Linked DNA regions of Homo sapiens. The protein of the gene in region 1 interacts with the protein of each later gene in a pairwise test. Each region holds a gene or a part of one and is shown on either strand. Other genes may lie near its edges.

Region 1 (3,944 bases):
TGACCCGAAGCACAGCCCAGCCGGGTGCCCCTGCCATCACAGCTGCTCTTTCCTTATAGCAGCGGGCGTGTTCTCATGTGCCCCGGGGTCCCTCACCCACTCATTTACTGGCAGCCTTCCCCAGTGGGGCGTAAGCCCCTGAGGACAGGGCCTCTTGCTGTCTGACTCCCCATCTGGCCCTCGCAGGCGCCCAGGGACACTTCCTCAGGCAGTGCTGGCTGAGCAGAAGCTCCTGGGGGGCTCCCAGTGCCACGCTGAGTGCCCCAAAGGCTGTGTTCCCATCTTGATCCCTGGAACCTGTGAGTGGGACCTCATTTGGGAATATGGCCTTAACTCCGGACGTGATGGAGTTAAGATAAAGTACTGGAGCAGGGCGAGCTCTCATCCCAGTGCCTGCTGTGTTTATAAGAAGAGATGGAGGCCGGGCACGGTGGCTCACGCCTGTAATCCCAGCACTTTGGGAGGCCGAGGCGGGTGGATCACGAGGTCAGGAGATCGAGACCATCCTGGCTAACACGGTGAAACCCCGTCTCTACTAAAAATACAAAAAATTAGCTGGGCGTGGTGGCGGGTGCCTGTAGTCCCAGCTACTCGAGAGGCTGAGGCAGGAGAATGGTGTGAACCCGGGAGGCGGAGCTTGCAGTGAGCGAGATCGGGCCACTGCACTCCAGCCTGGGTGACAGAGCGAGACTGTCTCAGAAAAAAAAAAAAGAGATGGTCCGGGCGTGGTGGCTCACGCCTGTAATCCCAGCACTTTTGGGAGGCCGAGGTGGGCAGATGATGAGGTCAGGAGTTTGAGACCAGCCTGGACAGCATAGTGAAACCCCATCCCTACTAAAAATATTAGCTGGGCATGGTGGCACAGCACCTGTAGTCCCAGCTACTTGGGAGGCTGAGGCAGGAGAATCGCTTGAACCTGGGAGGCGGAGTTGTGGTGAGCCGAGATCACGCCACTGCACTCCAGCCTGGGTGACAGAGTGAGACTGGATCTCAAAAAAAAAAAAAAGACATGGAGATACAGGAGGAGTCGTCGTGGAGATGGAGGCAGAGGCCAGAGCTATGCGGCCATGAGCCAAGGGCGCTGGGATCCCCCAGAAGCTGCTTGAGAGAGGCAGGAAGGCTCCTTCCCCGGAGCCTGCAGAGGGAGCGCGTTCCTGAGACACCTTGATCTCAGATTTCTGGCCTCCAGGACTGTTAGCAGATAAATATTTGTTGTGTTCTTTGTTTTGTTTTGAGACAGGGTCTGGGTCTCTCCCAGGCTGGAGTGCAGTGGTGTGATCATAGCTCACTGCAGCTTTAACTTCCTGGGTTCAAGCGATCCTCCTGCCTCAGCCTCCCGAGAAGCTGGGACCACAGGCACGCACCACCACGCTTGGCTAATTTTTGTAGTTTTTGTAGAGTTGGGGTCTCGCTAGGTTGCCAGGCTGATCTGGAACTCCTGGGCTCCAGCAGCCCTCCTGCCTCAGCCTCCAAAAGTGCTGAGATCACAGGTGGGAGCCCCCACACCTGGGCAGTTTCTGTTGTTCTAAGCCTCCCAGTCGGTGGTGGTTTCTCACAGCAGCCATGGGGAACGGAAGCGTCCCCAGGCCACAGCCTCCCCGCAGTGTGCGGACTCGGCCTGCTGAGCCTGCATGTTGGCGTCCCTGCCTGCCGGAGGGAATGATACTAAATGCAGCCTGCTGCAGCCGCACCCACACTAAACATGGAGGAGGGCTACGAAGAGTAGCAGGGCCCTGCATGAAGGGTGACACGTAAATTTAAAAAACAATTTCGGCCGGGCGCGGTGGCTCACGCCTGTTATCCCAGCACTTTGGGAGGCAGAGGTGGGCGGATTATTTGAGGTCAGGAGTTCAAAACCAGCCTGGCCAACATGGTGAAACCTCGTGTCTACTAAAAAGAAAAATCCAAAAATTAGCCGGGTGTGGTGGTGGGCGCCTGTAATCCCAGCTACTTGGGAGGCTGAGGCAGAAGAATCACTTGAGCTTGGGAGGCAGAGGCTGCAGTGAGCCGAGATCGCACCACTGCCCTCTAGCCTGGGAGACAGCGCGAGACTCCGTCTCAAAAAAAGAGTCATAAACTTAGTTCCTTAAAACAGTGAAATCAGTTATCTGACAGTTCTGGAGACCAGAAACGCTAACATCAAGCTGTAGGCCGGTTCCCGCCTTGCCCAGCGTCTAGAGGCGCCCCCATCCCTCCACTCAGGGCCCCTTTCTCCCCCTTCACAGCCTCAGCGCAGCCTCTTCCCGTTTCTCTCTGACTCCCACCCTCCCGTCTCCTCTCGTGAGGCTGCCACGAGGACCCTCTCCTGTCTCAGCGTCCTGCCCTCAATCCCAACTGCAGAGTCCCTTCTGCCATGAGAGGCAACCCAGCCTTGGGTCGAAGGGATGAGGTGGGGCCTCCTTCAAGAGACAAAGTCTGGTTCTGTCCGTGGGTTCTCTGTCCCTACAGAAAAGGAGAACAACTTCCCGCCACTGCCCAAGTTCATCCCTGTGAAGCCCTGCTTCTACCAGAACTTCTCCGACGAGATCCCAGTGGAGCACCAGGTCCTGGTGAAGAGGATCTACCGGCTGTGGATGTGTGAGTGCGCCTGGGGGCAGGAGGCGGGAAGCGGGAGGCAGGGCTCCCCGAGGGAGGGAGTGGCATTCAGGCAGGGGCAGCCCGTCGGGGGCCCACCGTCTACTGAAGCCGTCCTGGGCCTGGTGGTCCCTGCGGTGAACGAGGCTGGTGTCCAGGCCCCAGTGTCTTGGCTTGCACAGTTCATCCTCGACATGGGGTCACTGGGCTGGGGAGGCGGACAGCGGGTGCCCCATTGCTGGGCCCATGCTTTCCCACGGCCACACCCTCCCGTGCCTGCTCATCCGTCCTCCCTCTCTCTTCGCAGTTTACTGCGCCACCCTCGGCGTCAACCTCATTGCCTGCCTGGCCTGGTGGATCGGCGGAGGCTCGGGGACCAACTTCGGCCTGGCCTTCGTGTGGCTGCTCCTGTTCACGCCTTGCGGCTACGTGTGCTGGTTCCGGCCTGTCTACAAGGCCTTCCGGTGAGCAGAGCTGCCGGGGGCCGTCTGCACCCAGAGGGAACCAGGGCCCACTCTGCACCCCAGTCCCAGCCCAGCTGTGAGGAGCTGTCCCTTTCTCTGCCCAGTGTGAAAGACAGTTCACATCTGGGGGTGGCAAACTGTGGCCCACAAGCCAGAGCCAACTACTGTCTGTTTTGTTTTGCTTTCTAGTAATTTTGGCTGGGTGCAGTGGCTCAGGCCTATAATCCCAGCACTTTGGGAGGCCGAGGCAGGCGGATCACCTGAGGTCAGGAGTTCAAGACCAGCCTGGCCAACATGGTGAAACGCTGTCTCTACTATAGGTACAAAAATTAGCCAGGCGTGGTTGCGGGCGCCTATAATCCCAGCTACTCAGGAGGCTGAGGCAAGAGAATCGCTTGAACCCGGGAGGCAGAGGTTGCAGTGAGCCGAGATCTCGACACTGCTCTCCAGCCTGGGCGACAGAGTGAGACTCCATCTCAAAAAAAAAAAAAAAGGAATAAAATAGAGCCTCCGCTCTCACCATCTCTGACTGGCCCGTTCCTCTCTAGGCGCGTCTGGGAGAAGCCAGGGCTGTGGTAACCGTCGTGTTTTCTGTCCCTCCCCAGAGCCGACAGCTCCTTTAATTTCATGGCGTTTTTCTTCATCTTCGGAGCCCAGTTTGTCCTGACCGTCATCCAGGCGATTGGCTTCTCCGGCTGGGGCGCGTGGTAAGCCTCTCTCTGATGGGCGTGGTGGCTGTGATGTGGCTCAGCTGCCAGGTTGTGGGCCTGCTGGGAAGCCAGGCGGCCACCGGAGCGTGCTGGTCCGGGATTGTACGCGCTCTCCTAGGGAGGGGTCTGAGCTCACCCTGGCAGCGCCCGCGTCCTCGCCAGCGCCCGCGTCCTCGCCAGCACCCAGCCATGGTTC
Region 2 (3,600 bases), on another chromosome or scaffold:
CCTCCCCAGTAGCTGGGACTATACTATAGGTGCACACCTTTATGCCTGGCTAATATTTTCACTTTTTTGTAGAGACAAGGTCTTGCTATGTTGCTCAGGCTGTTCTTTAACTCCTGGGCTCAAGCAATCCTTCCACCTCAGCCTCCCAAAATTCTGGGATGACAGGTGCGCACCACCGTGCCCAGCCTTATTTAACTTTTTTGTTGCATGTATATTCACGTGGGTCAAAAAACCATTTAAAGAGATTTGCAGTGAAAATCTGCTTTCTATCCACTAAGTTTCCCCAAACGCTGTTAGGCACTGTTGATAGTTGTTTATGTTTCTTTTCAGTTTATTTACACACGTAAGTCTCAATTTGCTCAATTGTAAAAGGAGGATAATAGTAATAACCAACTATATGTAAGATACTTAGAACAGTGTTTGGCAAACAGTGGTTGCCATGTAACTGTTCACTATTATTATCATTATTTGCACTTTTCCCTTTTTACACAAATGGTAATATGCTATATATACTTCTAATCTTTTCTCTTTTTCTTTCTTTCCTTACAAGAAAACCAAAGAAGCCATTTTCTTTTTTGAGACGGGGTCTCGCTCTGTCACCCAGGCTAGAGTGCAGTGGCATGATTATAGCTCACTGCAACCTTGAACTCCTGGGCAATCAAGCAATCCTCCTGCCTCAGCCTCCCTAGTAGCTGGGATTATAGGCATGTGCCACCCCACCAAGTTATTTTTTTTTTAACAACTTTTTTTTTTAAGAGATGGCGTCTTGCTTTGTTGCCCAGGCTGTTCTCCAACTCCTGGCTTCAAGTGATCTGCCCACCTCAGCCTCCCAAAGTGCTAGGATTACAAGCATGAGCCACCGCACCCAGCTGCTTTTTTTAATGAGGTCACTCCTCATGATTTCATAAAGAGCTTTCAAAGCATGGACATTGTACAGTTGCTTGACTTGTGTAGTATTGATGGGCATTTTCCCTCAATCTTCTGCCATTATAAACAAGGCCGGGCAGAGTGGCTCATGCCTGTAATCCCAGCACTTTGTGAGGCGAAGGCGGGCAGATCACCTGAGGTCAGGAGTTTGAGACCAGTCTGGCCAACATAGTGAAACCCCGTCTCTACTAAAAGTCTAAAAATTAGCTGGGCGTGGTGGCAGGTGCCTGTAATCCCAGCTACTCAGGAGGCTGAGGCAGGAGAATCTCTGGGACCTGGGAGGCGGAGGTTGTGGTGAGCTGAGATTGCGCCACTGCACACTCCAGCCTGAGCGATAAGAGCAAGGCTCCGTCTCAAAAAAAAAAAAAAAAAAAAAAAACATTACAGGCATGAGCCATTGTGCCCGGCTGGTCAGATGTTTCTTAAATTTTAGTCATTCCAGTAGATGTGAGTGATATCTCATTATGGTTTTAATTTGCTTTTCCTTAGTGACTAATGGAAGTTTGAACATCTTTCATATACTTATTGGCCATTTAGAAATCCTCTTTGTGAAGAACCTATTCAAGTCTTCTGCCTATTTTATATTGGATGATCTTTTTCTTTCTTTCTTTTTTTTTTTTTTTTTTGAGACAGGGTCTTACCCTGTTGTCCAGGCTGAGCACTGTGGTGCTATCATAGCTCACTGCAGCCTCAACCTCCTGGGCTCAAGACATCCTCCCACTGCAGCCTGGGACTGTAGGCACGTGCCACCACGTCCAGCTAATTTTTGTATGTTTTATAGAGTTGGGGGTCTCACTATATTGTTCAGACTGGTCTTGAACTCCTTTATGCAAGCCATCATCCCACCTCAGCCTCCCAAAGTGTTGGGATTACAGGCATGAGCCATCGTGCCCGGCGGTCTTTTTCTTTCTGATTCTCTGCTCACTCTTGTATTCACTCATCTGTTCACCTACATTCTCTCTCTCTCATTGGCTACTTCACTCACTCCATCATCTACACCTGCTTCCTTTTATACCACACACACTTCTTGAGTACCAATCACAGCCACACTGTTTTGTGTCAGGCTTTACACATATTACCTTGTTTTAGAGAAATAAACCACTAGAATCCAAACAGTTACCCCATTTCACGGATGAGGAAGCAGACGCATGGGAAGGTTATGAAGTCTGTCTTCTTGCAGGGACCCCCAGCTCTCACAAGTGTGTGTTCCTTTCACTGCCTTTATTCTTCATATCTCTCTCTTCTTTTCTTCAGGGAAAGAGTATGCCAAGGGAGACAGCCGATACATCCTGTAAGTGTTTGCCTCTGTCAATGGAGACTGGCATTGGTTTTCGGGGGGTGGTGAGTTGGGGAGCACTAATGGGCTAACCTGTAGGAAGAGCACACCGATACCAGTGTCCCCTCATGCTTTCTCCTGCAGGGGTGACAACTTCACAGTGTGCATGGAAACCATCACAGCTTGCCTGTGGGGACCACTCAGCCTGTGGGTGGTGATCGCCTTTCTCCGCCAGCATCCCCTCCGCTTCATTCTACAGCTTGTGGTCTCTGTGGGTAAGGAAAGGGCACTAGAGGGGCACTGGGCACTAGAGGGGTTGATGGGGGATCCACAGACACAGATGTATCCCTGTGGGTGGGATCTCTCAACGGTGCCCTTCCAGGGGTAAGTCAGACTGAATGACAAACCCCCTGAGGCTCTGGAAAGGTCATGCCCTTCTCTGAGCCTGCACTCTCAGGTGGGGAGGGTTCATTTTTCTTCCTCCTCCTCCTTCTCCATCACAAAGTCTCCTGTGAAGGTTACATGAGGTGGCCCAGGGTGGCAAGAAGCCCCTGGAACCTCCAGGATCAGGGCTCTGAGATCCCTTCATGTAAGATTCTGTCATATTTTTTTTAAAACAGGGTCTGGCTCTGTCACCCAGGCCAGAGTGCTATGGTGTGATCTCGGCTCACTGCAACCTCCACCTCCCAGACTCAAGCGATCTTCCTGCCTCAGTCTCCTGAGTAGCTGGGACTACAGGCATGTGCCACCGTGCCTGGCTAACTTTTGTATTTTTAGTAGAGATGGGGTTTCGCCATGTTGCCCAGGCTGGTCTCAAGCTCCTGAGCTCAAACAGTCCTCCTGGCTTGGCCTCCCGAAGTACTGGGATTACAGGTGTGAGCCACTGTGCCCGGCCTCAGTCATCTTGTGTTATTAAATTGTTAGCTTTCTTTAGTTCTAGCGATATGAGTTATCTTTAGTCCCAGAATCCTAAGCTGTCTTGGATTTGAGGATTTTGAACTTCCTTAAATCTGAAGGTGTGAGCTCTCCTGAGTTCTGAAATTCTCAGCTCTCTGGTGTCTGGAATCTCACTTTTCTGATTTCTCAGATTTTCAGCTCTGTGATTTCAGAATACTTAGCTCTGAGACCTTGAATGATGACTTGGAAAGTGCTTTGGAATAGAGAATTGGCGAAAGTGTCCCCTTCCTCACTGGGGCTTCTCCTTCCCCTCCTGCCACCCACAGGCCAGATCTATGGGGATGTGCTCTACTTCCTGACAGAGCACCGCGACGGATTCCAGCACGGAGAGCTGGGCCACCCTCTCTACTTCTGGTTTTACTTTGTCTTCATGAATGCCCTGTGGCTGGTGCTGCCTGGAGTCCTTGTGCTTGATGCTGTGAAGCACCTCACTCATGCCC

Evidence for each region.
Region 2: the proteins of SCAMP4 (region 1) and EBP interact in binary tests that used the Homo sapiens proteins (3 or more experiments, as listed by UniProt).

The regions. Positions count from the first base shown.
Region 1 is NC_000019.10:1,915,246-1,919,189, forward strand, and holds part of SCAMP4 (secretory carrier-associated membrane protein 4), read left to right. Parts: intron 1-2,448; coding exon 2,449-2,577; intron 2,578-2,881; coding exon 2,882-3,038; intron 3,039-3,643; coding exon 3,644-3,745; intron 3,746-3,944. UniProt on the Homo sapiens protein: Probably involved in membrane protein trafficking.
Region 2 is NC_000023.11:48,524,808-48,528,407, forward strand, and holds part of EBP (3-beta-hydroxysteroid-Delta(8),Delta(7)-isomerase), read left to right. Parts: intron 1-2,181; coding exon 2,182-2,218; intron 2,219-2,347; coding exon 2,348-2,478; intron 2,479-3,426; coding exon 3,427-3,600. UniProt on the Homo sapiens protein: Isomerase that catalyzes the conversion of Delta(8)-sterols to their corresponding Delta(7)-isomers a catalytic step in the postlanosterol biosynthesis of cholesterol.